Linked DNA regions of Homo sapiens: region 2 is linked to region 1. Evidence: fine-mapped QTL for protein levels in blood plasma. A gene starts in region 1. The other region holds a variant in brackets. All regions are shown on one strand. Distances are between the middles of the regions. Region 1 holds the start of PROK1 (prokineticin 1). Region 2 holds the start of LOC105378899 (a long non-coding RNA gene).

The links. PIP is the chance, under the fine-mapping model, that this variant and not a neighbour inherited with it causes the effect. The UK Biobank Pharma Proteomics Project read protein levels with antibody pairs (Olink). The fine-mapping took linkage between variants from a reference panel, not from the people measured, so its PIPs are less certain.
Region 2: its variant is fine-mapped to the plasma level of the PROK1 protein (UK Biobank, PIP above 0.99).

The regions. Positions count from the first base shown.
Region 1 is chr1:110,445,663-110,454,698 of GRCh38, forward strand. PROK1 (prokineticin 1) reads left to right here and starts at 5,487. Exons shown (of 3, transcript NM_032414.3): 1 at 5,487-5,626; 2 at 8,299-8,424. The coding sequence starts at 5,555.
Region 2 is chr1:110,461,038-110,477,649 of GRCh38, forward strand. LOC105378899 (a long non-coding RNA gene) reads right to left here and starts at 12,609. Exons shown (of 2, transcript XR_947699.2): 1 at 12,528-12,609; 2 at 11,505-11,823. LOC105378898 (a long non-coding RNA gene) reads left to right here and starts at 12,720. Exons shown (of 2, transcript XR_001738181.1): 1 at 12,720-12,757; 2 at 12,907-13,045. RefSeq lists an enhancer at 16,251-16,612. The variant G/A (reference allele first, on the strand shown) is at 4,901.

The sequences.
Region 1 (9,036 bases):
TCCAGAGCAATACATTTCTGTTGTTTATAAATTACCCAGTCTGAAGTATTTTATTATGACAGCACAAGCAGCCTAAGACACTCCCCAGGTCCCTGTTATTCTCTGGACCCCGACACTGTACTCTTCTCTTTCTTTCTTTTTTTTTTTGTTTGAGACGGAGTCTCACTCTGTCGCCCAGGCTGGAGTGCAGTGGCACGATCTCAGCTCACCGCAAGCTCCACCTCCCGGATTCACACCATTCTCCTGCCTCAGCCTCCCGAGTAGCTGGAACTACAGGTGCCCGCCACCACGCCCGGCTAATTTTTTTGTATTTTTAGTAGAGACGGGGTTTCACCATGTTAGCCAGGATGGTACTCTTCTCTTTCTATTTTGTTTTCTTCTTCTTTTTTCTCCTTGTTCTTCTCTTCCTCCTCCTCTTCCAATTCTTCTTAGATTTGTCCAGTTTAAATTCAGGCTTTCAGCTGGCCTGAATTTATGACCCTGCACTGTACTAAGCTGCATCTTTCCTTTGCTCCGAGTCTCCAGAGTTTACCCCCGGAGTTCTTGGCTATTGTGCTGTAGGCCCCTTTGAAGCCTATGGCTCAGAATAATGACTTCAAATGTATAAAATACAATATGTAAGATTATAAAAAATATCAAGTTTATTAAAATAAAGTTATCAAGATATTTATTAAAAACAAATTTGTGACATGGTAATACATGCACTTCTTTATTAATGGATCAAGTAACAATCTAGCAAGGAGCCTAGTAACTACAGTGATTTCAAGGTAGTGATGAGCAGGAATGATATTTGGAGCTATTTGAAGCAATAGTAATATGACATAAAAACATCTGTAATTTCTCCTGGCAACAAAATCACGGTACTGTTAAAACTTTTGTAGTTTGTGGCCTATGGTTCAAAGAAAATGTTAAAAATTCAGTTAGAAGTTAGTGAACATTAAGATGCAATTTTTCTCTCTACCAAGTTTATGGATTCTCTGAATTCTGCTCATGAGCTCCTCAGGGCTGTGACTCCAAGTTAACAACCCCCAGCCTGGATGCTTGGGTTTCCTTTATTCTATTATTCCTTTCTTCATCTCTTTTTGAAACGGATCAGAGTTAATTCTTGTTTAATCATTAGCAACAAACCAGTAATAAAGGGAGCATTTTTTTTTTCTTTGAGACAGAGTCTCACTCTGTCACCCAGGTAGAGATGTGATCTGGGCTCACTGCAACCTCCGCCTTCCAGGTTCAAGTGATTCTCCTGCCTCAGCCTCCCGAGTAGCTGGGATTACAGGCACATGCTATCAGGCCTGGCTAATTTTTGTATTCTTAGTACAGATAGGGTTTCACCATGTTGGCCAGGCTGGTCTCGAACTCCTGACCTCAGGTGATCCACTTGCCTCTGCCTCCCAAAGTGCTGAGATTACAGGCGTGAGCCACTGCACCCAGCCAAAGGGAGCATATTTGAACACATGTGCTCAAACATTAACACAAGATCCGCCCACTCAGGCAGGAGCAAGGAGACCCCTGGACATGGGCTCCCTTTCTAGCTTGCAGAACAATAACCATGATCTTAAGGTAGAGTGGAAAGGGGCTTCTCAACCTCTCCCCCATGCTTAGGTGAGACTTACTCCATGCCTGAAGGTAAACAGTCTCAGAGGACTATGCCAGGTCAGGGAATATTCCACTCCATAGTCTCACTCCATGAGAAGGTCGCCCTACATCTTGAGGGGCCCCTCAAGGTAGGCCTTGAGATTGGCTGTTGCTACACGCGCACACACACACATCTGTATAAATGGTCCATGGTGACACTGACATCAGCTAAAGCAGAGAAATAAGGGCCAGGCTGACGTTATGAGATGTGAACTGCACGTAGCCCTTCTACACAGACACTCAATGGCATGCTGCCCACCTGCCCTCATTCTCTCCGCAGGTGTGTAGGATTCTGGGAAAGGCTTGCCCGGCACATCTTCTCCACTAGCTCTCTCCTCCCTCAGCGGAACCAAGTCCACTTTTAGCACTTTCACCGTTTCCCCTCCATTTTTTACCACTTGCTTCTTGTCTCACCTCCCCTCCGGCTTCCCTCCTTTGTCTCCTCCAGTTCATGCTTGCTTAGTTCAGGGTTTTCCTCTCCTTTCCACTGTCCTTTTCCACACTGCACCTGGCAGCCAAAAAGTAACCCTAACCATGGCAAAAAAGAATCAAGTACTGTTGAAATCCACCTAGACAAGGGAACAGGAGAGCTCTAAGGTCTAGAGGGAAATTAGACCCTAGAAGTGCGAGTTCCTGGTCCTGACACATGGAAGGAACTGAATGAATGTGTAATTGAGTTATTGAATAAAGAATCAGTACTGCTTATCCCCGGAGCTCCTCAGAGTCTCTTCTGGGATTTCCACCAAGTTGCCCTCTGTCCCTTGTCCTCCTCTAATTAAAATGGCTTTTCCTCAAGCACTAGCATTCAAGAGAAATAAAATGCTTTTAATCAATGCTATTGGTTTTGTTTTGCAACAGCATTTCTTGCTACCATTCTTCACTGCAATTGTGAGATGATTAGTTTTGTGTGTTTGTGGCAGTGGGGAGGGAGGGAGTGAGAATAGGGGAGCGAATGGGACGGGTGTTAGCCTGAGAATCACCTGATCTGACATTGTCTCTTGGAAGGCAAACTTGTGAGGTGGGGTAGTGTGTGCAGGGCAAGCAGAGCCCACAGGACCACTTCTGTAAGGTGTTCCAAGCCCCCAGCAAAGTGCTGCCTCCTCCCTAGGTAGCTTTTCTCCCAGAGCAGAAGGTCCTCCAAGGCTCGGATGGTCTCTTGATTCTTCTGTCACCAGCCCGGCCCAGTGTCACAGTGTACAGGTGGGCCTTACAGACTCATTATTTTGATTCTCACCTCCCAGGAGAATTTTATATTAAGGCATACAAGTTCATATGTTTATAGAAAAAACTGGCCATTGGTAGCAAATGCTGCTGTGTGCCAGGCATTGTGGTAAGCACTTCATATGCATCACCTCACTTAACTCTCCATCTGCAGTCAGAGGGATCCTTTCAAGGTGTGAATCAGGCCAGGTGCGGTGGTGTGTGTCTACAGTCCTAGCTACTCTGGAGGCTGAGGCAGGAGCATCGCTTGAGCCCAGGAGTTCCAGGCTGCAGTGAGCTATAATCACACTTCAACCTGGCTAACAGAGCAAGACCTTGTCTCTAAAAAAAATCCAAGTGTATACCAGATCCTGCCTCTCCCCTGCTCCAAACTCTCCAAGGGTTCCCATCACACTTGGAGTCAGGTTCCTGCCATGTCCCACAAGGCAGGCTGGATTTGGTCTTTGGCTCCTGCTCCAACTGCATCCCCTCCCATCCCGTCCCCTGGCTCACCTCACTCTTTGCTTCTCCTGGAACTGGCCAAAAAGCCCTGCCACAGGGTTGTTGCACTGACTTTTCATCCAGGCTCTGTCCAGCTCACTCCTTCACTTTATCAGTCATCTGCACAAGTGCCTTCTCAGACAGACCCTTACCACATCTAAAATATCACCACTTGTCAAGGTCTGTTGCTTTCCCTGCCTTTCTCCCCACCACCTTTTTTTTATTTTTTGAGATGGAGTCTCGTTTTGTTGCCCAGGCTGGAGTGCAGTGGCGCGATCTCGGCTCACTGCAACCTCTGCCTCCCAGGTTCAAGTGATTCTCTTGCCTCAGCCTCCCGAGTAGCTGGGATTACAGGCGTGAGCCACCACAGCTGGCTAATTTTTATATTTTTACTAGAGATGGGGTTTCACCATGTTGACCAGGCTGGTCTCGAACTCCTGACCTCAAGTGATCCGCCTGCCTCTACCTTCTAAGTGCTGGGATTACAAGCATGAGCCACTGCGCCTGGCCTTCCTTTTTAACAGTGCTCAACACAACTGGCCATTTTATTACAAATCTGTTTATTTGTCTATTACCCGTCTCCTTGACTATAGTCAAAATTACATGAGGACAGGGTTTTGTTTTGTTCACTGCTATATTCCCAGTGCCAAGAACAGTGTCTTCTATACAGTAGGCTCTCAATAAATATAGTCAATGAATAAATAAATAGATGAATACTCGCAAAATCGTATGATGTAAATGCTATTCTTATCCCATGTTATAGATAGGAAAACTGAGGCTTGGAGAGATTAGCAATATTTTCAAGGTCATGAAGCCATCGATCTGAATCAAAGCATCTGCCTCTGGGGGCTTAGCTCCCAGCTCCCGTGCTAGTTAACCTTCCTCTCTGCACTCATAAATGCCTATCAGCGTTTCAATGTGGAAACCCTAGACCCCTGTGACATTTGATAAGAAAGGTTTTGTGGATGAATCTGCTTGTGAAATACTACAAACTGCATTTCCCACTTGGTGTTTCAAACACTTATTAGCATATGAAAGGCCCTGAAAAGTTCTGCAAAAAACAAGCCGGTTTGTGTTTCCCAAATTTTTGACTGTAGAAGTCTTTTATTTGTTTATTTGTGTATTAACATATTGCAACACATACCTTGGGAAATGTTGGCTTTTATTACTGTGGAGAGAAGGCAGATCATCTGACAAAGCACTGGGAGCTCTCTCTGGGTCGTATGACACAGAGAGGGCTGGGGTCAGGGGCTTCCCTCACAGGCGGAGGGGCCATCCCGAAAGTCAACTTCCCACCAGACTGGCATCTGAGACCACCGTGTTTATACACTCACGGATAAGGCCACTCTCATGCTCACCCCTAAAACTGGAAGGCCAGTGGTGTGGCTCTGGTACCTTTCAGCCACAGCCCATACCAGCTCGGCTCTGCAGGGTACTGAGAGAGTGTGTGCCCTGTATGTTTGCTGGCTTTCTGCCCTTGGGTCATTGTACCAAGGGACACTTGCTGGTGTTCATCCTGAGCCCATGAGAGAGCAAATCCTTATGTGTGTGTCACTTAGGAACATCAGCCCCACAAGTCTGGTCTTTTTTTCCTCACTGTCTTATGGCTCCTCACTATAATTTTAACCTTTTAGAGAAATAAGGATACCACCTCACCCTCTTCTGTCTTCTCAGCTACCTCTGTGTTGAGCCCATGGTAAATGCCTAGATAAGTCTTGGTGTGAGTGAGAGGGAACCAATAATCTTGTATGTTGCATAGTTTGGTGCAGGGAAGCATAAATGGTGATGTTGCAAATCCCTTAATTCATTACCAGAGGCTTTCCTCTGCCCCAAGTAGGATAGAAGGATACCCAGAGGCAGAAAAGAACATTGAGTGAAATATACATAACTGTCTGAATCACTGCGTTCTTGGGAGAGTTAGAGCAACCGTCAAAGCCCCCCAAGTATCCATTTTTATTGGTTTTGATGTTGATTTGATGTTGTTAGAGATTCAGGTCTCATCTTCGCTTCTGAGATCATCTGAGTAACATCGGTGTTGGAGAAGGGAAGAGCAGAGATGAGGCATCCACAGGCAGCCCTGGATCCTGAGTGTAAACATCTGGGAGGAGGCGGGGGATGCAGGAGAGCCTGGCCTCCCCAGCTTGCCAGGCACAAGGCTGAGCGGGAGGAAGCGAGAGGCATCTAAGCAGGCAGTGTTTTGCCTTCACCCCAAGTGACCATGAGAGGTGCCACGCGAGTCTCAATCATGCTCCTCCTAGTAACTGTGTCTGACTGTGCTGTGATCACAGGGGTAAGTCGCCTAACATTCTCTGTGCCTTGGGTTTTGGGAAGATGTCAGGGTCTGCACGGGTTGTGAGCCCAGGAACCATGCAGGAGGCTCTGTTGGCTCAACACAGTGTGAACCAAAGGGAATGGGGAATTATGCATTAAAGGGATTGCATGCGATTTTCAGACTAGTTAGACCTCACTCTACTAAATGGGATCTGCTTTTGAGAAGCTGTGTATGAATCAAATCCTGTTTTCAATGTGTTAGCAGAGCATTGAACATTTTGAAGTTCAGTCCTTTGGTAAAGTGAAGATTCCTATTAAGTAATAAGGAATTCCTTTATAAAGTGGATTGGCAAACCTTAACTTATCTTTTGTGTGAATTTTAATTTTTATTTATGGTCTGATTCACATATTAATATTAATATTAATTTACATAGCATGTTGACTTAATTAAAGGCAGTAAGCTTAATTAAAGGTGGTAAGCTTATAAACTTCTATTGTATAAACTTAACCTCCGCTTAGAAAGGATATCTTTGAAACTCTTTCACTCTGTGCCTGCCTAGTTAGTTCTGAGAGGAATATGGGTGCCACTAACATTCAGCTGAGTGTACCCCAAAGCAAGCATCCAGATAACAAGTAGATATCCAGTCTCGAAGCAGAGAAGCAAAGGTTCAGCATATGGGCACTGTACAATTGGTTCAAAATATTCAGATCATGGTTTTCTCTCGGAAGTTTGCTTTTACCTCAAACCACCTTCAAATAGGGGCACATGATGTGTTATGGTAGCAGGACCATTCTTACTGAAGCAGAAAGCAATGCTGTACCTGAGAGCTTTCCATATAAAATCCACTGGAAGAAAAAGGTCGGGGAAGCAGGGAAACTAACTTTTAGTTCAGCCTCCACCAGCTTTTTACATGGATAGTGGAAATGTAGAGAAATGCCAAACAATTCCTGGAATTGGGTTAATTTTACCATTCACAGAAAGGACAAATTCTTTCTTTTCTCTTTTAAAGGAAAAACACTGAGTTCAAAAGAACAAATATTAAAGGCGAGTCAAATGCTTTTGAGATCCAAAGCAAAAATAAAAATAATTGTGAAGGCAGAATTATACCTAATGAAGTGTTTACACTGTAGGCTGCCCTTCTATGGGGTAGCTTGAAAATCTGGGAGGGCAAGAACAATGGAGAGAAGCCCCGGCTGCTGCGCGGTGAGGGCAGGAGCAGCGTGGTTGGCCTGGATGCCAGGCTTGCCTCACCACCCGTGCCAGCTCCAGCACTGGCCCAGAGTGACAGCAGGGCAGGCAGATCTGAGAGCGGCAGGCAAACATTTTCACGGTGAAAAGCACAATAGAGAGCACTTTTCCCTAGGTGAGGGAAACCCAGGAAAGACAGGTGAGTGGTGAGAACAGGGCAGTAAGGGGAAGTCAGGAACCCCCAGGCTCCCCACATCCTCCATGTCCTGCTGGTGTCCCACTTCTGATTTTCAGCAGGAGCCCAGGCTCCACCACCTCTACACTCCCCTGCTCCCTGGACTGTAACTGTCCCCACATCCAAGGCTTTATGATCCTTCTTCCAAGAGTGGGACAGTGATGCCCCACCTCTATGGGAGAAGAAGAGTCGACTGGGGTTTCCTTTACCCCAACCCCAAGCTTTTGTGGCCTGGCTGGGTGTGAGACGTGCCCTTGCTGGGCTGGAGACAGGCACAGCTGGGTGCCCACCACCCGTAACTCCTCTGCATGATCTGTGGAGCTGACATCCACTCTTTCCCTCTTGGGTCTGAGCAAGTAGGAGGCTTCCAGGTCCTGCCACGTCCCACACAGCAGCCTGAAGGTGCCCATAGGCTTTTATTGGAGAAGAGTGATCCAAAACCCAGCTTTGCATTTCAGCTCAGAAAAGCCACATAGCATCTCTGAGAATGGCAAGTGTGGATGCTTCTTCAGCAGGTCCCCACCTGAGTCTGGAGCAGTTAAGAGTTCTGTCTTCCCCGGCTCTGGCTTTTATTTAACGTGGGCTCATGTTAAATGTGAGCTTATTTAATGTGGCCTTCTTTACAAATGGTACCTTCCCCAAACCAGGCAGGGCCGCTCAGCTCCTGTTCTGCGATCCTCTCTGGGAATCATGGAAGTCAGTAGAGAAACCCTGGGAGAGGCACCTGTTCACTGGGGTGCTGGCCCCTCTGCTGAGGCTGGGCCACTTGAGGGCCAGGATGGGGGTGCCTCCATGCAGAGGGGAGGGACTGACCACAGTGCAGAGTCAGGGCTGGAGACTCCTGGTCCAAGGCAGCTCAGTACTGACCACCAAGGAATTTGGGCCATCAGGGTCCCTCCCACCTCTGAGAATTCTAATTAATTCAATTCCACCAGCATCCACTGAGCATCTACTTAGCCCTAGAAAAGCTATGCCTTCTAACCTCCAGCCTTGTCAGAAAAGGAGGACTGTCTTCCTTCTGAGTGGCCTCCAGGAGCTTGGAAGTTTCCTCAGATCCAGATCCAATGCCCCCCTGAGCCCTGAGCCTCCCCACGAGGGGAGCAAGGCAATAAAGTGTGGCCCAGGGTGTTCTGTTAGGCTAAGGCCGGGGGTGATACTCTCAGCCTCTTCTTGCTCCATCCTGATAAGGGCTTTTTGGATCTACCCTTCCCTTCTGCTTTCTCTTGGGTGCACTAATGAACTGTTCCCTTCTCTCTCCCTCCTACAGGCCTGTGAGCGGGATGTCCAGTGTGGGGCAGGCACCTGCTGTGCCATCAGCCTGTGGCTTCGAGGGCTGCGGATGTGCACCCCGCTGGGGCGGGAAGGCGAGGAGTGCCACCCCGGCAGCCACAAGGTACTCTGCAGACACTGCATAGGTGCACATATGTGGGTGGGCCATGCGGGGAGCAGAGGGTGATGTCCTGGGGCCTTGCTCTAGCTAGGAAGGCTAGAGAGGCTGGCTCCAGAGAGGCAGTCTAGGGAGGCTGTGGCTCCAGAGGACTTCACCCTCCTCTGATAGCTGATCCAGCCCTGATCCAGCCCCTGAATGTCCAAGGGGAAGCAGAAGGCTATGGGGTTGCTGTGCCCCTGCCATCAACAGGCATCCACCTTACTTAGTGCCCTGCAGATGACACATTTGTACATTTATTTGTACAGGGCCTGACATAATTCATCTACAAACTTCTAGCACAGGTTGGAGAACCACTGATCTTTATTTGATCCTCACTGCAACCCTGGGCAATGCTGAGGAAACTGACATACAGCAAAGTCATGTGACTTGCTCAAGGCACACAACCAATGAGACAGAGCTGGGACTGGAACTGCAGTTTTCCGATGCCACCTCTAGTCATACCTCACTGATGTTGGGCACTGCCTCCTTGTTTTTGGGGGGCAGCCTCAGGTGGAGGGGTGCCACTGATCTTATAGGCTGTTAAACAAGCTGGGCATTCCCAGCCCCTAATTTGCT
Region 2 (16,612 bases), 19 kb after region 1:
GTTATCCTGGGAGCTCTCCTGAGGGCCTGAAACACTCAAAGGAGATTAAGTGGAAATCTGCTGCTAAATCCAGCTCCACCTGAATATTTAACAGTGAACATGGGACAGTGTAGTCCATAGAATGCCAACTGGCTGATGACTGAGCAGGCACAGGTGAGTGCATGCTGACTGCTGTTCCTCCTGTCCAGTGATCCCCTTCTGAGGCCCCAGGAGGCAGTGGCCAGAGGTGAGACCCAAGGAGGAGCAGGAAGCCTCCCAAAGCCAAAGGGAAAGGTCAGCTCAGCAGAGGCTCCGAGGTTGGGGACCTGCTTCAGAGTTGAATTTGCAGGACGAATGACAGCTGGATTTTACTTAGAGTGTGTGTTTTGTCTAGGGTGGCTGTGCTTGGGCAGGGGCTGAGGTGGGGCCAAGACCCTCGAGCTATGGAGGGCAACACTTGATGTTTGTCTTACTCCGTTTCTGCTGCTATAACAAAATACCTGTGACCGAGTAATTTATGAAGAACAGAAATGTATTTCTCATAATTCTGGAGGCTGAGAAGTCCAAGATCAAGGCACCAGCAGATTCAGTGTCTGCTCAAGGCTTTCTTTTTATCCTCATATGGCAGAAGGTAGAAGGGCAAAAGGGGCTGGCTAGTTCCCTGGAGCCCTTTTATTAGGGCACTAATCCCATTCACAAGGGCAGATCCTATTCTGACCTAATCACCCGCAAGGCTCCACCTCTTAATATTATTGCATGGGTGGTTAAATTTCAACACATAAATTCAGGGGGACATTCAGACCACAGCAGCATTCCTACTTCTTCATACCCTTGACAGTGACAATCACTGAGTTCCAGAAATTGCTACTTGAAAATGTGACCCATATACTGCCCAGGCTGGTCTCAAACTCCAGGTCTCAAGCATTCCTCCTGCCTTGGCCTCCCAAAGCACTGGGATTACAGGTGTGAGCCACTGCGCCTGGCCCAGTAGTCGGCCTTGACCTGTGAGTCTAGCCCAAGAGTCAACCTTGAGGATTCGCCTGGGTTGTCAAAAAATCAGATTCTACCAGTGGGGGAAGGAAGCACAAGGTGGCCTGGGGGCACATTCTCTGTCTGGGTATCTTTGGGGACACCTGTTCTGATTGGGAGCTGGAAAGGAAAACAATAAGAGCCATTGTTAAACAAACAGGTTTTCTCCATCGAATGACAAGTGAATGAATAAAACACACTATATCCACACAATGGAGTATTATGCAGCCATGAAAAAGAATGAAGTATTGATATACACCATAACATGGAGGAACCTTGAAAACATCATGCTGGGTGAAAGAGCCAGTCACAGAAGGCCACATCTTGTATAATTCTATTTATGGGAAATGTCCTGAATAGGTAACTCTGTAGAGACAGAAAGTAGATTAGCTGTTGCCCAGGGCTGGGGTGGGCTGCAGGTAGGAAAATAGGCGGTGACTGTTAATGTTCTTTTTGGAGCCATAAGAATGTTCAAAATTAGTTAGTAGGCATGGTGGCACAACTCTGTGAGTATCCTAAAAATTATTTGAAATGTATATTTTAAATGGGTGAATGGTCTGGTATGTAAATTATATCACCATAAAGCTGTTTTAAAAATACTAAAATCCAAAAAGTAAAAAAGAAAAAAAAATAGCTCTACAACTTCGGTTTGTAGAATCGAAAAGATGAGGTCAGGAAGGGGCCGGGGCTCACAGTTTCTGAGTTTTGGTGCTTCCAGGGACCCAGGAGATCCTCAAGCCCTGGGGCACATCAGGAGTGAGGAGGGTGGGTGTTCTGGGCTGGACTGTGACTTGATATTCCTTCAAATGGATATTTTAAAAAATGTTCATTTAATATTTGTTTTGTAGGCTGAAGAGAACGATTTGACATTAACCCAAACTGTGTATTTCTTTGCTAATGTACCAAATAAGGCATTTGTTATATGTGGTTTTCTACCCCAAACATCTTTTACACCAATGGCATACTAAACTGTTTTCAATTTAGATGATTAAAGAAACTGCCTATGAGCAGAACAAAAGCACTATACTGTGCACTCTGCAGTCTGGGGTTTCAGTTTCCTGGGACTGCATCTTAAGATGAGTGCAAGGAATTTTTGTTTTCCACTGGAGGGCACTGCCCACCCTGGTGGGAACAGAGAGATCCCTATGTAGTGGCTGAGTTATCTGGCACAGGCCTTAACTGGCTCTGAGTCTTCTATTGACTGCAGGGATGTTTTGTGCCCCCTTTAGAACTACACCCTGGACAGCTGACCCTGACAAGGAATAAGGTTGAAAGATGGGTTGCCACCTCTTGCTCCAACCCTGGTTGGGGCCATGGCTAGACTCAGAAGCCCAAAGCCACAGAATCACTGAGGTGAACAACTTTAGGTGAACGAAAGAGTCAGCTTCCCTGCTGAGGTTTTCCATCCCATATTTATGACAAAGGGCTCTGCTGGGGCCTGCACACAGCCATGGTCTGCAGCCACACCCTAGGTCCCTGCCACTCTGCTGTGTCCTGTCCCAGTTCTCTGCTCACCTGAGGGGCAGTGCTTGGGTCTTGGGAAGACCACTTGGTCCAGGTCACAGGAAGGATATGATTTATGGTCCTTTTGTCCAAAAGATCCTTTCCTGTCTCAGCCCCCTGCCTACTCGATAGACTCTGCTGCGCGTCAGTCACAGACATATTTGTTTCTGTGTACCTTGGGAGAAAAACACGAGTGTGGTTCTCAAAAGGATTCGGAGCTCCTGCGGGGGCTGGCCTGGTACAGGGCAGGAAAATATTCTGGGTCTAGTGAGGACAGAGGGGCCTTTATTTGGGAGCTGAAGATTAATGAGGAGGATTAACTGGATCTAAACAGAGAGAAACACTGGTGTGAGTAAGAAGACGTGGGCACATTTCTGACGGAGACGAGTCATGGAGGAGCCTGTGAAATTCTGTCTCAAAGCTAAACCCCAAAGATTAAGTAAACAAATATGTCAAATGGCAGCTTGACATGTTCTTGTTATTTTACATTTTGCTCGATTGGCATTTCTCATCAAATTAGCGGCAAAGCTCCCTTATGTTTCCTGACGGGGGGTTAGCACAGTGGTTCACTGCACAGACTGCCTGAGTTCGAACCCTAGTTTGGATGCTTACTAGAGACTTTGGACCCAAAGTTACTAAACCTCTCAGTACCTCAGTTTCCCCATCTGTACAATGGCAATAATAAAAATAGCACCTACGTGTTGTAACCAGCACACCACACTAGCATTACCTGGAGGGATCTCTTCAGTGAGGTAAACCAATAAGATGTCCAGGAAGGAACGAACAATCTTTTCTCGGATGTGCTTCAATTCCCCAGAAGCTGAACATGGTAGGAAGAAATCAGTTTGTTCAGATCATGTTCTGTTATTATCTTGAAGTTTAGAAGCACAGGTTTATGTAGGCAGAGCTCAATAACAGCTCCATTTGGGAACACAGATACACAAATCTTATCTAAGTACTTCTTAATACCTTGCTTAAACATATGAGTCACTGTTTCACAGTAAAATGGAATGTTTGCTCAATATGGGCTATGATCTTAATACTGTGCTATTCTTTTTTTTTTTTTGGTAGAAAAAGCATAAGGAGAGTGGGCTTTGAAGTCTGTCCTGGCTCCTCTCAGATTGTGTCCAAATCAAACCTCCCAAACCATGTGTGTTCCCTGAGACAGGCCTCACTGTTGCTGCGACTCCCTTCTAGAAGGAGGCAGTGCTAGGGAATGTTGCTCACCCCCTAGACCACCAGTTCCCAAGCACCAAAGGAAGACGTTACTGCCAAGCACCAAAGGAAGACTCTGCTTCTGTGGGGCCTTCAACAAGCCCCTCTACAGCTTGGACTCTGATGCAGGTGCTCCTTGTACCTCCCACTCCCAGAGAAACACTACCCTAACCCATCACCCCAACCTTTGAAGGAAATCAGTTAAACAAATAATGAAAATTCTACTTTTCTTTCCAAGTGGCAGAGAGGCTAGTTTCCATTAGGAGAAGTTCCAGCTAAGATAGAGGGTAGTCTTCATGCTAAAGCAAGGACTAGCAAGCCCGGGAGAGGGAGGAAGAAGGGTGTGTGTGCGCACCTGGGTCTGTGCCCATCCAGAATTAGGTTTCAAAGGGGGAACTATTGTGCCTGTGAAAACCTGAGTCATCAAAGTGCAAAGGGGGAAAAAGAATACAGAGAGGAGCAGTTGCGCAGGAGAGAGAGGAGGTCCCTTGAAAGGCAGTCATTTCCGTGCACTTTAAGGCAAACAGCTGGGCCCCCACCTGGACTCTGGAAAGCCTTGCAGGTGAGGAGGCTGAGCTGGCTGCTCTGAGGCCCAGACCAGGAGGCAACATGTGTTCTACATACACACTCCCTGGACCCATCTGGGGCTCAGCTGGGAAGGGATGAGACAAGGACCTGGGCTGCCAGATGCAATGCTCAGGGTCTCCAGGGGGTGTCAGAGAGTCAGGGCAACAGAAGGCGGGGCCCAGGACCCTCTCCTGGGAGCTGCCCCACTGCAGGAGCTGCTGGGGGTGGTATCTTAGTAGCAGTAGCCCCATGGGCAGAGGCAGCCTGCAGCTTACTGTCAGCGTGAGGGGAGGACAATGAGACATTTGAGAGCCTGCAGTGTCAGGCTGGCCATGCCTGGTCTCATTAGCCTTCAAGAAGGGGCCTGAGAAGAGGCTCTGGTGCAGGCCCAGGGAGGTAGGGTCAGAGGAAAGAGCCTGTGAGGGGTCTCAGGGGAGCTAAGCACCCACGGGAATTTGGCCCCAGCCAGGGAAAGATGAGAGAGAGGGTTCTTGCCTTATCTCCCTGTTGCAGTCTTAGTTGGACAAGTTGGGGCCCCAGTGTCCCCTGGAGGTGGCCTAACTGCAAAGCATGTAGGCCACAAGGGGCTTTTCTGGGTTGCCCCAGA[G/A]GTCCCCTGAGCCCTTGAGGAGCTGGATGCAATCAGAAGTGGGACCATATACTGCCCCCAACGTCTCCCACCCTATTTCTCAGACTCTGTCCCCACTATTTCCCACTCTACAAGGCGCCCTGTCTTCCTGCTCTGTCCTCTCTCTGACCTTCAGGCTGGTGGTCAGAGGTCCTCTTGGCGGTCCTGGGACCAAAAGTCTCATCTCAGCACCCTGAGGAGTCAGGGTCTGTTTCCACGTCTGGTAAACAGGAACAGTAACCCCTGGCTGCCCACAGGCTGTCACGAGGGCACCCTCGGCAGTGCTCCCCCAAACTCCCCTAGGGTTAAACTCACCTGGGGTGCTTGTGAAGTACCCAGGGTCCTGTGCCGCATCCCAGAGCCACTGGATCTGGATTTCTGGAGAGGAAGTCTGGCAAGCTAGAGTTTTAGCAGCTTGAGAAATGTTGGAAAGGAGTGAAGCAAAAAGGCCCCATTCACTCACTCTTCTTGGTTTGAATCCTGCTCCACCCGCCAACTGCCTAGCTACAGGACCTGGGGGAATTTGCTCCTCTAACTCAATTTCCTCATTGGTAAAATAGGTTCCCATTAGAGCTTATCTTGTGATGTTGTTGTGAGGACTAAATACGAGGAGCAAGCCCCAGGCTGGCACAGAGAGGAGCCACAGTAACTGTGAATATCACTACTAGATAGGCTTATGGAGTGAACGTGCTTTGTAGGCTGATAGATGAATTTTTTCTTCTCTTTATATAAAGTGGGCTCTGCCCTCTCTTCAATAAAAGACAGTGTCTGCACCAACCAATCCTCAAAACTCAAGTATAGAAACTGGATTGTGCACTTAATCAGGGTGGAATAGAACAGCCTGTGCCCACCCCCTCCGCTGATGGCTCATGAAATGGGCCAAGTGGGAGTGAGGCTGGCCTCCTGCAGCCCTGCACCTGGGCACCCTGCCCCATGAGGAGGAAGCAGGGCAGGGCCCTCTGTGCTCATACCCCTCTCCCTGACCCTTCCCTGCTTCAGGATTGCTGCCTTAAAAAAATTCTTTGACTGTTACCCCAAGTAGACCCACCCCGGATTTTACTGCATGCTGCAGCCCTCTTCATTCGTAAACCACCCCGTGGAGTCAGTCTGTTCAGTTCAAGGTGAAGATTTTAACTCAGGCTATTTATAATTCCTGCAATGGAGCGGGTGTTAGTTTCAAAGCAGTCATGCCAGATGTCAACTTAGAAGCTGAGAGGGAGACAAGCGTTATTATAAATTAATGTTGCCAGTGATTAATATTTGATATTTTTAACACACGTTCGTCTCAGAGGAAAAAAATCCTCTTTAATTAATGTGGCTAGATGTTGTGCAGTCCTTCCACTGACGTGGGATTACTGAAAATCTTTGGGTATAGCTTTGGGCAAAAATCTGACAGAAGAAAATAATTGAACCCTGAAGTCAGAGTCAGAGTTTGATGCCCCAGTGTCTGTACACCTGTCTCCTTCAGCTGGGACTGTCGGGGTTGGGCATCCGCCAGTCTCCTTCCCCCTTCCATCCTTTCCCCTCGGGACCTCCTGCTCCCATTCTGGACTGGTCCAGGCTGGAGAAGACACTGGTTGGTTCCATCACGGCCTGGGAGTCTGGAGATTTTTCTTTAGTCTGGGCTTTGCCAATATGTGAAGTGGCTCATCCTGTAGACTGTCACTGGGTGGGAGGAGAGGCTTGCCCTATAGACCTCTGCTATTTTGTCTGCACAGTGCAAAAACAAATGGTTGCTCTTATTTCAAAGCTGGTATATTTCTCCCCACATCCACATTTCCTGTATCTCTTGGAAAATGGCAAATCCTGGCATCCCTAGTGTGGGTTCCCACAGTGGCACTAACTTGTGATATTATCTTTCTTTTCAAATGTTCCTGAACCCGCCATTGATCTTGGCCTCCACTATACCTTCCTCAGGGTGGCCATCTGGTGGCTGGGGTTAGCATCTGACCTGCAGACAATTTGGTCTGCAGGTGTTGGCCTGCATTATGCTTAAAAAATAAATTGGGGCCAGGTGCGTTGGCTCGCACCTGCAATCCCAGCAGTTTGGGAGGCCGAGGCAGGCGGATCACGAGGTCAGGAGATCGAGACCATCCTGGCCAACATGGTGAAACCCCGTCTCTATTAAAAATACAAAAATTAGCCAGGCCTGATGGTGTGCGCCGTAATCCCAGCTACTCAGGAGGCTGAGGCAGGAGAATCGCTTGAACCTGGCAGGCCGAGGTTGCAGTGAGCCGAGATTGCGCCGCTGCACTCCAGCCTGGTGACAGAGTGAGACTCTGTCTCAAAAAAAAAAAAAAAAAAAAAATTGGAAGGACACTGGGCCTGGTGGCTCATGCTTGTTATCCCAGAACTTTGGGAGGCTGAGGTGGGAGGATTGCTTGAGGCCAGGAGTTCGAGACCAGCCTGGGCAACATAGTGAGACATCTGAAATGAAGCAATTTGGAAGATAATTAAATTAATTGCATTTTTTTCTTTTTTGATCTGGTTTCTCCTAAAATTATTTTTCAACATTTATTTTTAAATTTAGAATTTGAAGCACAATCTCTAGTATTTTGTAGGCCCATAAAATGTTACATGCCTACTCCTTAGTTTAGTAAAAATAGATATAATTTGGTAGAATCTCTGGTAGGCGATTTTTTTTTTTTTTTTACATCAGCTAACATATTCTTCTCCATTACCTGCCTGGCCCCTGTGGTCATCTGGGCTTTCACCCTTGCCAATGTCACTGAGCCTCATGTTTCTTATCTGTTAAATGAGGCCTGAGAGGCTGGGGTAGAAAGATCATGGATTCTGGAGTTGAACTGGTCCTGGATTGAAATCCTGGCAACACTGTCTTCTCATCTTGGAGCTGAGTAACGACTTAAGTTCTTTAAGCTTCATTTTTCTCATTTGTAAAATATAGATAATAGCAACCACCCTGCATGCTCTTGGTGATGACTAGATGAGAGGAGAATAATAAGAGCTTGCATTCATCGAGTGCCTGCTGTTGCCAGGCACCTTGCATGGCCTCACTGATCATCACAAAAAACCTACAAGGTAGAAGATGTTTCCAGATGAGGACGCCGAGGCTGGGAGGGATGACTGTCACAAGGGCAGAGCAGGGGCGCTGAGCACACAGTGGGCACTCAGGGACCCAGGGCTGTGTAAGAGACATTGCCAAGGTCGCCTCTACTCCTGAAAACCCCATGATTGAGACCCTGTCCCTCTACTTTTCACAGTGACCAGGCCAGGGAGGAGTGAGTTTTGCAGATGTTCAAAGACAGAACATAAAACCTGAAGGTGTCCCTCTTTATATTCTGAGTTTTCAAAAGGTGCATATTCCATTCATTAGATTATAGTTTATGATATTTGGTTCATAAGAGTATACTGATTTTTATTTACAAGTAAACCTATTTTTTTACTGTGTTGTATATGTGACATAGAAGTTACCATTTTAATCATTTTTAAGGGTATGGTTCAGCAGCATTGAGTAAATTCATGTTCTTGGGCAAACATCACCACCATCCATTTCCAGAAATTTTTCATCTTCCCAAACTGAAACTCTGTACCCATTAAACAATAAATCCCCATTCTCTCCCTGGTCCCAGCTCCTGGAAACCACCATTCTACTTTCTGTCTCTGAATTTGACTCCTCTGTGTGCTTCACATAAGCGGAATCATACAGTATTTGTCTTTTTGTGACTGGCTTATCTCACTTAACATAGCATCTTCAAGATTCATCAATTTTGTAGCACGTGTTAGAATGTCCTTTCTTTTTAAGACTGAATAATATTCATATATATATATACACACACACACACACACACACACACAGACATACACACATATGCCACATTTTGTTTATCCATTCCTCTGTGGATGGACACTTGATCCTACCTTTTGGCTATTGTGCATAATGCTGCTACAAACATGGGTATACAAATATCTTTTTGGAACCCAGCTTTCAATTCATCTGAGTGAACTGAAGAATCCCACAAGTGGAATTATTGAATCATACAGTGTTCTACTTTTAATTTTTTGAGGAATTGCCATACTGTTTTCCATAGTGGCTGCACGATTTCACATGCATACCAGCAATATACAAGGTTTCCAGCTTCTCTAAGTATTTGCTAACACTCGTTTTCTCTCCCTTCCTTCCTTCCCTTCTTCCTTCCCTCCCTCCTTTTCCTTCCTTCCCTCCTCCCTTCCCTTCCTTCTTCCCCTATTCCCTTCTTTTGATAGCAGCCATCCTAATGTGTGTGATGTGATATCTCATTGTAGTCTTGATTTGTATTTCCCTAATAATTAGTGATGTTGAGCATATTTTAATACGTTTCTTGGCCATTTGTATCTCTTCTTTGAAGAAATCACTTCTATTCAAGTCATTGGCCCATTTAAAAATCAAGTTATGGCTGGGCGTGGTGGCTCATGCCTGTAATCCCAGCACTTTGGGAGGCCGAGGTGGGTGGATCATGAGGTCATGAGTTCAAGACCAGCCTGGCCAAGATGGTGAAACCCCGTCTACTAAAAATACAAAAATGAGCCGAGTGTGGTGGCGGGTGCCTGTAATCCCAGCTACTCGGGAAGCTGAGGCAGGAGAATCACTTGAACCTGGGAGGTGGAGGTTGCAGTGAGTTGAGATCACGTCATTGCACTCCAGCCTGGGCGATAGAGCAAGACTCTGTCTCAAAAAAAAAAAAAAAAAAAGGGAAAAAGAATAAATCAAGTTATTTGTTTTTTGTAGAAGTTCTTTACATATTCTGGATATTAGCCCCTATCAGATATATGATTTGCAAACATTTTCCCCCATTCCATGGGTTGCCTTTTCACTTCGTTGATGTGTGTCATTTCATGCACAAAGGTTTTAAGTTTTGATGTAGTCCCATTTATCTATTTTTCCCTTTGTTTCTTGTGCTTTTGGTGTCATATCAAGGAGACCTCACCAAATCTAATATTATGAAGATCTTAAACATTAAATTTTGAACCAGTTTTCCTTCCCAACTACTAAGCGATTCCTTACAACTTTCTTTCTTTCTTTCGAGACAGGGTCTTGCTCTGTTGCCCAGGCTGGAGCGCAGTGGTGCTATCTTGGCTCACTGCAGCCTCTACTTCCCTGGCTCAAGCAATCCTCCCTCAGCCTCAGCCTCCTGAGTAGCTGGGATTACAGGCATGCACCACCACCCCTGGCTAATTTTTGTATTTTTTTCTGGAGACAGGGTCTCACCATGTTGCCCAGGCTGGTCTTGAACTCCTGGGCTCAAGTGATCCACCTGCCTCTGCCTCTGGAAGTGGTAGGATTACAGGTATGAGCCACAGTGCCCAGCACAAACTGTATTTACAAAGCAAATCAATCACGATCTCAAGATGTGTGACCTGGTGCTAATGCCTCATTGTCCTGCAGAGGGCTCGTGTTCTGTATGTCCATCTTCGTCATCCCATTTTAGGACTGCCCTGTCCAGTCTTGGTGCCTAGGTATTGTGTGGTGGTGGGGACAGAGCTGGAAGGGACCTGTTTCCTACCAGAGAAACTTCTCACCCCATCCTCCTCTCTCCCACTCTGCTTTCCTCTTCTTTTTACCTCCCTACCTGAAAAATACTCTGAAATGGGATTTAGGACCTGTCTGCTAACCCCACTTCCCTGCAGCCCCCAGTGAATTTGGATCCATTTGCCTGTTTCCCGGGGCAGGGCCCTAGGCTGTGAGTAACCGGCTCTCTCCCTGTCTAGTTTCCACCTTCTTCCTCTGGACATGCGGGGTGGCATGTGTCAAATTTATAAATATGGTTTTGGAGAGGCCTTTGGATTATCTCAATCTTTAAAATCTTTTTATTTAGACATAATTTCAAACTTGCAGAAAGAGTTCTTACATACCTTAACCCAAATATCAGAAATGTTGACACCTCACCACATTTGCATTATTTTTCTGTCCGCTATTCCTCCCTCTCCCCTTCCCCTCTGCTTTTCTCTCTCTCACTCTCTCTAGGTATTAAAATATATATTATATTATATAATATGTAATATATTTATATATTTTATGTATAAAAATAAAACTTAAATATATATAAAATATATAATTATTGATATTTAATACATAAGTATAAAGAAAACACATAGCTATATAAATTATATAGAACATATATGTATGTTTTTCTTCCCCTGGATCTTTTAGGAAGCAAGTTGCAGACATAATACTCTTTTTTTTTTTGAGACGAAGTTTTGCTCTTGTTGTCCAGGCTGGAGTGCAATGGCGCGATCTCGGCTCACTGCAACCTCCACCTCCTGGGTTCAATCAATTCTCCTGCCTCAGCCTTCCAAGTAGCTGGGATTACAGGCACCCACCACCACGCCTGGCTAATTTTGTATTTTTAGTAGAGACCGGGTTTCACCATGTTGGCCAGGCTGGCCTTGAACTCCTGACCTCAAGTGATCCACCTGCCTCAGCCTCCTAAAGTGCTGGGATTACAGGCGTGAGCCACTGTGCCCGGCCTGACATAATACTCTTTACTTCAGTATTCCCCCCAAATCAAGGACATTTTCTTGTAAATATTAACATGAAAATTGGTACAAATATCGAAGTCAGGAAATTAATATCAGAACAATACTATCATCTGATGTAGACTATTTTGCCAATTGTCCTAATCATGCCCTTTACAGCAAAAGGAACATTGTTTTGGATTCTCTCTTGACACACAGGCAAGGGTGGGCTAGAGCCATGGCCAGCAGCCAGGAGGCTGGGTAGCCTCGGTCTTCCTCCCCGTGGTGGAGTCCAGTGGAGGCTCTACACCGCACCCTGGGCGAGAGAGAAAAGCCTGCCTGGTCCCGCCGGCGGCTGCCCAGGAGGAAAGTAGCCTTCATCCCCTGCTTTCCACTCGGCACCTTCTCTGCTTCCAGACATCTGCCCCCATCTCCACGGTGCCTGCTGGGCACTGTAGCAACAAAAATGCAAGTGTCAGCTCCGGCTTTGTGTTGTCACCATCCAGGGCCCTCATTCTAGAGTCATGCTACCTGAGTCTGAATCCTGGGCCTGCCCCTTACTGACTGTGTGATCTTGGGCAGGTTATTGAACTGATCTGTGCTTCGGTTCCCTTAAAATGAGACAGATAGTACCTCATTTACAGGATTGTGGTGGTGTGTGGCTGGGAAGAAGTGATTTTATACATGTAAAGGGCTTAGGATGCTGCCTGGTCAGTGGCCATGCTTGCCAACATTCATTGTTATGTGATCAAGCTTGATGCTTTGCTGAGGGGGCAGCTGGATCTCTCCTCACCACTTCCCAAATTAGCTTGAAATGTTAGTGGCAGGAGCATCATGAAACTGATGTCTAGTCCTCTAGTTGGGAGCATCAAAGAGGGTCCAGACTAGGGGGAGGAGGATCTCCCAGGGGTCATCTCATCTCTCACTCTGTATCTAAGTCAGCATCTCAGTGTTACCTTGATCAGTGCAGCACCTGTCAGCTGAGTTTCCCGGCTAGATCTGCCTAGGGATGTGCTAGATGCTCCCCAGGACTAGCCCCATTATATCCCTTCTAGCCAGCTGTTCTGAAATTTATACCTGGGGTTTGTTTTAATTAGGTATGGTAGGACATGCAGACATGGACATGATTGTCATGAAGGAAGAAGTTTATACTTACAGACCCCTAGACATAGGAGGCATGTAGGGCCACATTGGGAAGCACTGGGGTCAGTCAGGAGGTGGAGGTTGGGGGGGAGTTGTCTGGGGTGGTCAAGGGAAAGGAAATTGTGACATAGAGCCTTTATTGCATTATTACATGAAGGAATGGGTGACACAGGGTAGGTATTCTGAGTAAGCTTAGAATTGTATAGTTTGAGTAATTTCAGCGGACTCTGGGCTGGAGGAGTGGTATTTGACCCTGGGGTGGTTTAGGGCAGGGAGAAAATTGGCTTGCTTTTTGAGAGTTTGATAAAGGAGAGGGTTGGGGGTGTGGGCTGTGGGTGGGTTGGTTCGTATATCAAAGACAGGCTCACAGGGGAGTCTTTCGCCATGCCTAGGAATTAGCTAGTCCTGTGAGGGCAGTCTCTCAAGGATCAAGGCCCCAGATGCCAGAGCATCAAGAATATGGAAAATCAGAGAACATGATCAATATACCAGCTCATCCCTGGATGAAGCTCCCTGCCTTTCCTCATACAGGCGAGTGCTCTACTCTCCCTTCCCCAGTAGCACTGGTCCGTAAGCCAAGGAAAGGACTCATGCATTGAATTATACTTAGTTGCCTACACGTCTGTGTGTTCCACTGGACTACAAGCTCCCTGAGGGCAGGGAGAGGAGCTTACTCACCTCTACATGCTCAGTGCTTGGCACAAGGGCCAGGTGACCTCATTGGCAGAGGAGGAGGTGTTGCTGTGGTGGGCCACAGGCCACTGACTGTCCATATGTGGGTCACGTGGGCACTTACTCCCTGATTTCAGCCACTGGAGACCTCTTTTGGGAAGGAAGTCCCATGGCCTCATTTGCTTACTTCTGTATATAGCTGTTGAGTGAATGGGAGGATGAATTTAACATTTACTGAGTGCTTATTTTAGGTCAGGCATTGTTCTAGGTGTTTAGAGTTACAGAGAAAATTCAGACAAAATTCCTGCCCTAGAGTTCTTAGTCCAGAGGGAGGCTGATGTGTAAGCCATCACTGAGCAGTGAGATAAGCACTCTGAGAACATCCCAGACCGAGGAGCAAACTGCGCTGGTGGTGGAGTGGGTGGTTACTGCAGACAATGTGGGTGGGCTCAACAGAACCTGATTGTCTGCTTCCACTATACAGACAAAAAAGTGCAATCCTCAATTTTCCGGCCTACCTTGTAGCTGGGAGCTATAAAATGAAGTTCATCAGGCATGAGCGGTCTGCTGGTACTGCTTCTTCCCGCTTCCCCTTCTTCTTGCTTTGGGATGGGATGCGATGTTTGCTGCTGTAACAGCCATTTGCAGCCATAAGGAAAAGGCCAAATGAATTGCAGTGGTGTCCATTGAACCAATTCTGTATTTTTCTGGACTTCTTGTTTTGTGAGAAAAATAAACTGCTATTTAAACCACTGTAGTCAGATTTTCAATTACTTGCAGCCAAACCCATTCCTAATTGATCTCATAGGAGATATAAGAAAAGGCTTCACACAGGACATATCATTTTCTAAAATTATTTCTTTATTTATTTACAACAGAGATGGGGTCTCATTATATTTCTCAGGCTGGTCTTGAACTCCTGGGCTCAAGTGATCCTCCTGCCTCAGTCTCTCAAATTGTTGGGATTACAGATGTGAGCCACTGAGCCCATGCCCAGCCCATAGGACATATCTTTTGAGCAGAATCTTGAAGAAGATGGGTAGGCAGAAAATAGAGAGAAGGGCATTTGGGCAGAGGTATAGCATAGGTAAAAGCACAGTGAGGGGAGAAGTTGCATGTCACGTTGAAACACATCAAAAAGTATTAGGTAAGTTTCTCCAAGATGGAGAGAGGTGGGGAGGGTGTTCCAATCTCAATGAAGCACTGAGCAGAGTGTGGAGACAGGATCATGCATGTCATGATTGAGGCATGGTGAGTGTTTGTGCCTGGTTCCTGTTTGGGAAGCTGCAGAGATGAGGCTGGGAAAGTGGATGGGGCCAGACTCCTGGTGGTCAGGAGCTTGGTCTGCAGGTCTCTGCTGGTAAAGGCTCCTGAACTGGGAGTGGCCTGATGAGGTCCTGGTTGACCAGCCTATGGGCTTCTGTCTGCTGGGTGCCGCCCTCCCTGCCCAGAGGCCTGCATGGTAGTTGTGGTAATTGCCTCTTCTCCTTCCTTCTATCCCCCTCTCCCTTCCCATTCAGGAACCAGGAATAGGTTTCACTATTGCTGTTTCTCAGAACTAATAATATGCTCTTCCATGAGCAGGGTGGGGCCCACGCCCCATTCTTTCTCCCAAGAGGACCTGGCAATTCCATCATGCATTGGGCAGAGGTTTCCAGGACTCAGGCCACTTAATGCAGAACAAATAACTGTGCAGGTATGGAGGCTGGGAGTTATTCTCACCTAAATGTTCTGCTGACCTCAGCACGTGGACGGGCCATTACACCACGCACAGTGGCCATTTTGTGGGGAGGAAGAAGAAGGGTGGGGATTTCTACAAATGTGCGGGGCGACGTTTGTTAGGTCTCCACCTCCTGGGGTCTCTTCCACTTGAGCAATTGCTCTCTATTTGTCCTACAGCAAATGCCCCAGGGCCCCTTAGTCTTCTTCAGGCTCTGGGGCTTTTCAAGTGTGGACATGATTCAGTCATCTTTTGCTGAATTGCAGAATTCTAAAAATTCTAAAAAGTGTTTAGAAAAGCCACGATAAGATTTCATCACTGGTTACCTGGTGCTGGAGGGGGATGACTCCCCTTGGTCTAGATTCCTTGAGCCTGGGGACTGACCCACAAAGTGGCTATAACAAATCAGTGCCCAGGGACACCCTGTTTTGTTAGCAGTGGTAGTTATCTGTACAGGTCTGCAGCAACCTCAATTCTTGTCTACCCAGAAAAAAGAATTCAAGTGAGGGGCAAAAGAGCAGAAGGAGAGACCAAGGCAGTTTTAGAGTAGGAGTGAAAGTTTATTAAAAAGCTTTAGTGCCGTAAGGAAAGGAAGGAAAGTACTCTTGGAAGAGGGCCAAACAGGCGACTTGAGACCAAGTGCGTGGCTTGACCTCGTGACTCGGGGTTTTATACATTGGCATACTTCTGGGATCTTGCATTATTTCTCCCGACTCCTGAGATCTTATTGGGAAGCTGCTGATCACCAGTTCCAGGTGTTTTCTATCTACTAGGAGACTGCCTTTTGCTGGTGCTGGCTGTGACCAATTATTACTTTAGAGAGACAGTTAACAACCGCCTGACCATCACCTGATGGTCACCAAACACTCCTGACGTGTGTGTGGAGAGTCTTCTGCTGTACTCATACATGGCTAGCTACCTACTGTAACACCTTGACATAAGCGTCTGATCTCCACTCAGATATGAGCATCAATAAAGATAATTCAAGTCAATTTATTGAGCATCTTCTATGCATTTGCTATGGACACAGAGACTAGGGAGCCCACCATCGGATGGGAGATGGAAGGATCTAATGTGTGACCCCACTGTGAAAAGTACTTCAGGAGGAAGTCCAAAGGGATGATGCCGCATGCTGGAGGGGGCCAGGTGGCAGGGGAGTATAGCCCCTGGGAGTGCATGTGTGACCATCCTGGGCTCAAGTCCTGGGTTGACTGCAAAGCGGTGTGACCTTGAGCAAGTTACTTCTCCATGTCTCATTTTCCTCTTCCAAAGGCTTGAGGCAGAGATACTGAGAGGGTCATGTAAGGATCAAAGATAAGAGTATCAAGTGCTGGCATGTGTTTGGCTTTCTACAAATGTGACTCACAGATGACTACAGTTGTGTGACTCTGAATGACTCAGTTCAATCCCTGGTTCTATTTCCTTATCTGTAAAATGTGAGATTTACAAGCTCATGGTGCTAGTCCAAATCTCAGGTGTGCACAGAGCAGCAGGTCTTTTCGTTTTCTGTAAATCAGTTGAATTTCTGCAGTGTGCCCCCATCTTTCAAGAGCACAGAAAGAGGTGGCTGAGTCTGGCATCCAGGGCCATTGTCCAGGAGAGTTCGCTGCTGAGTCAGGCTGGTGGTGCATCCCTCCCTTCCTCCCCCACTGGCCCTCCTGCCTATCCCTGCCTTCCTCCCTAAGGTTGAGAGGAAAATTAATCTT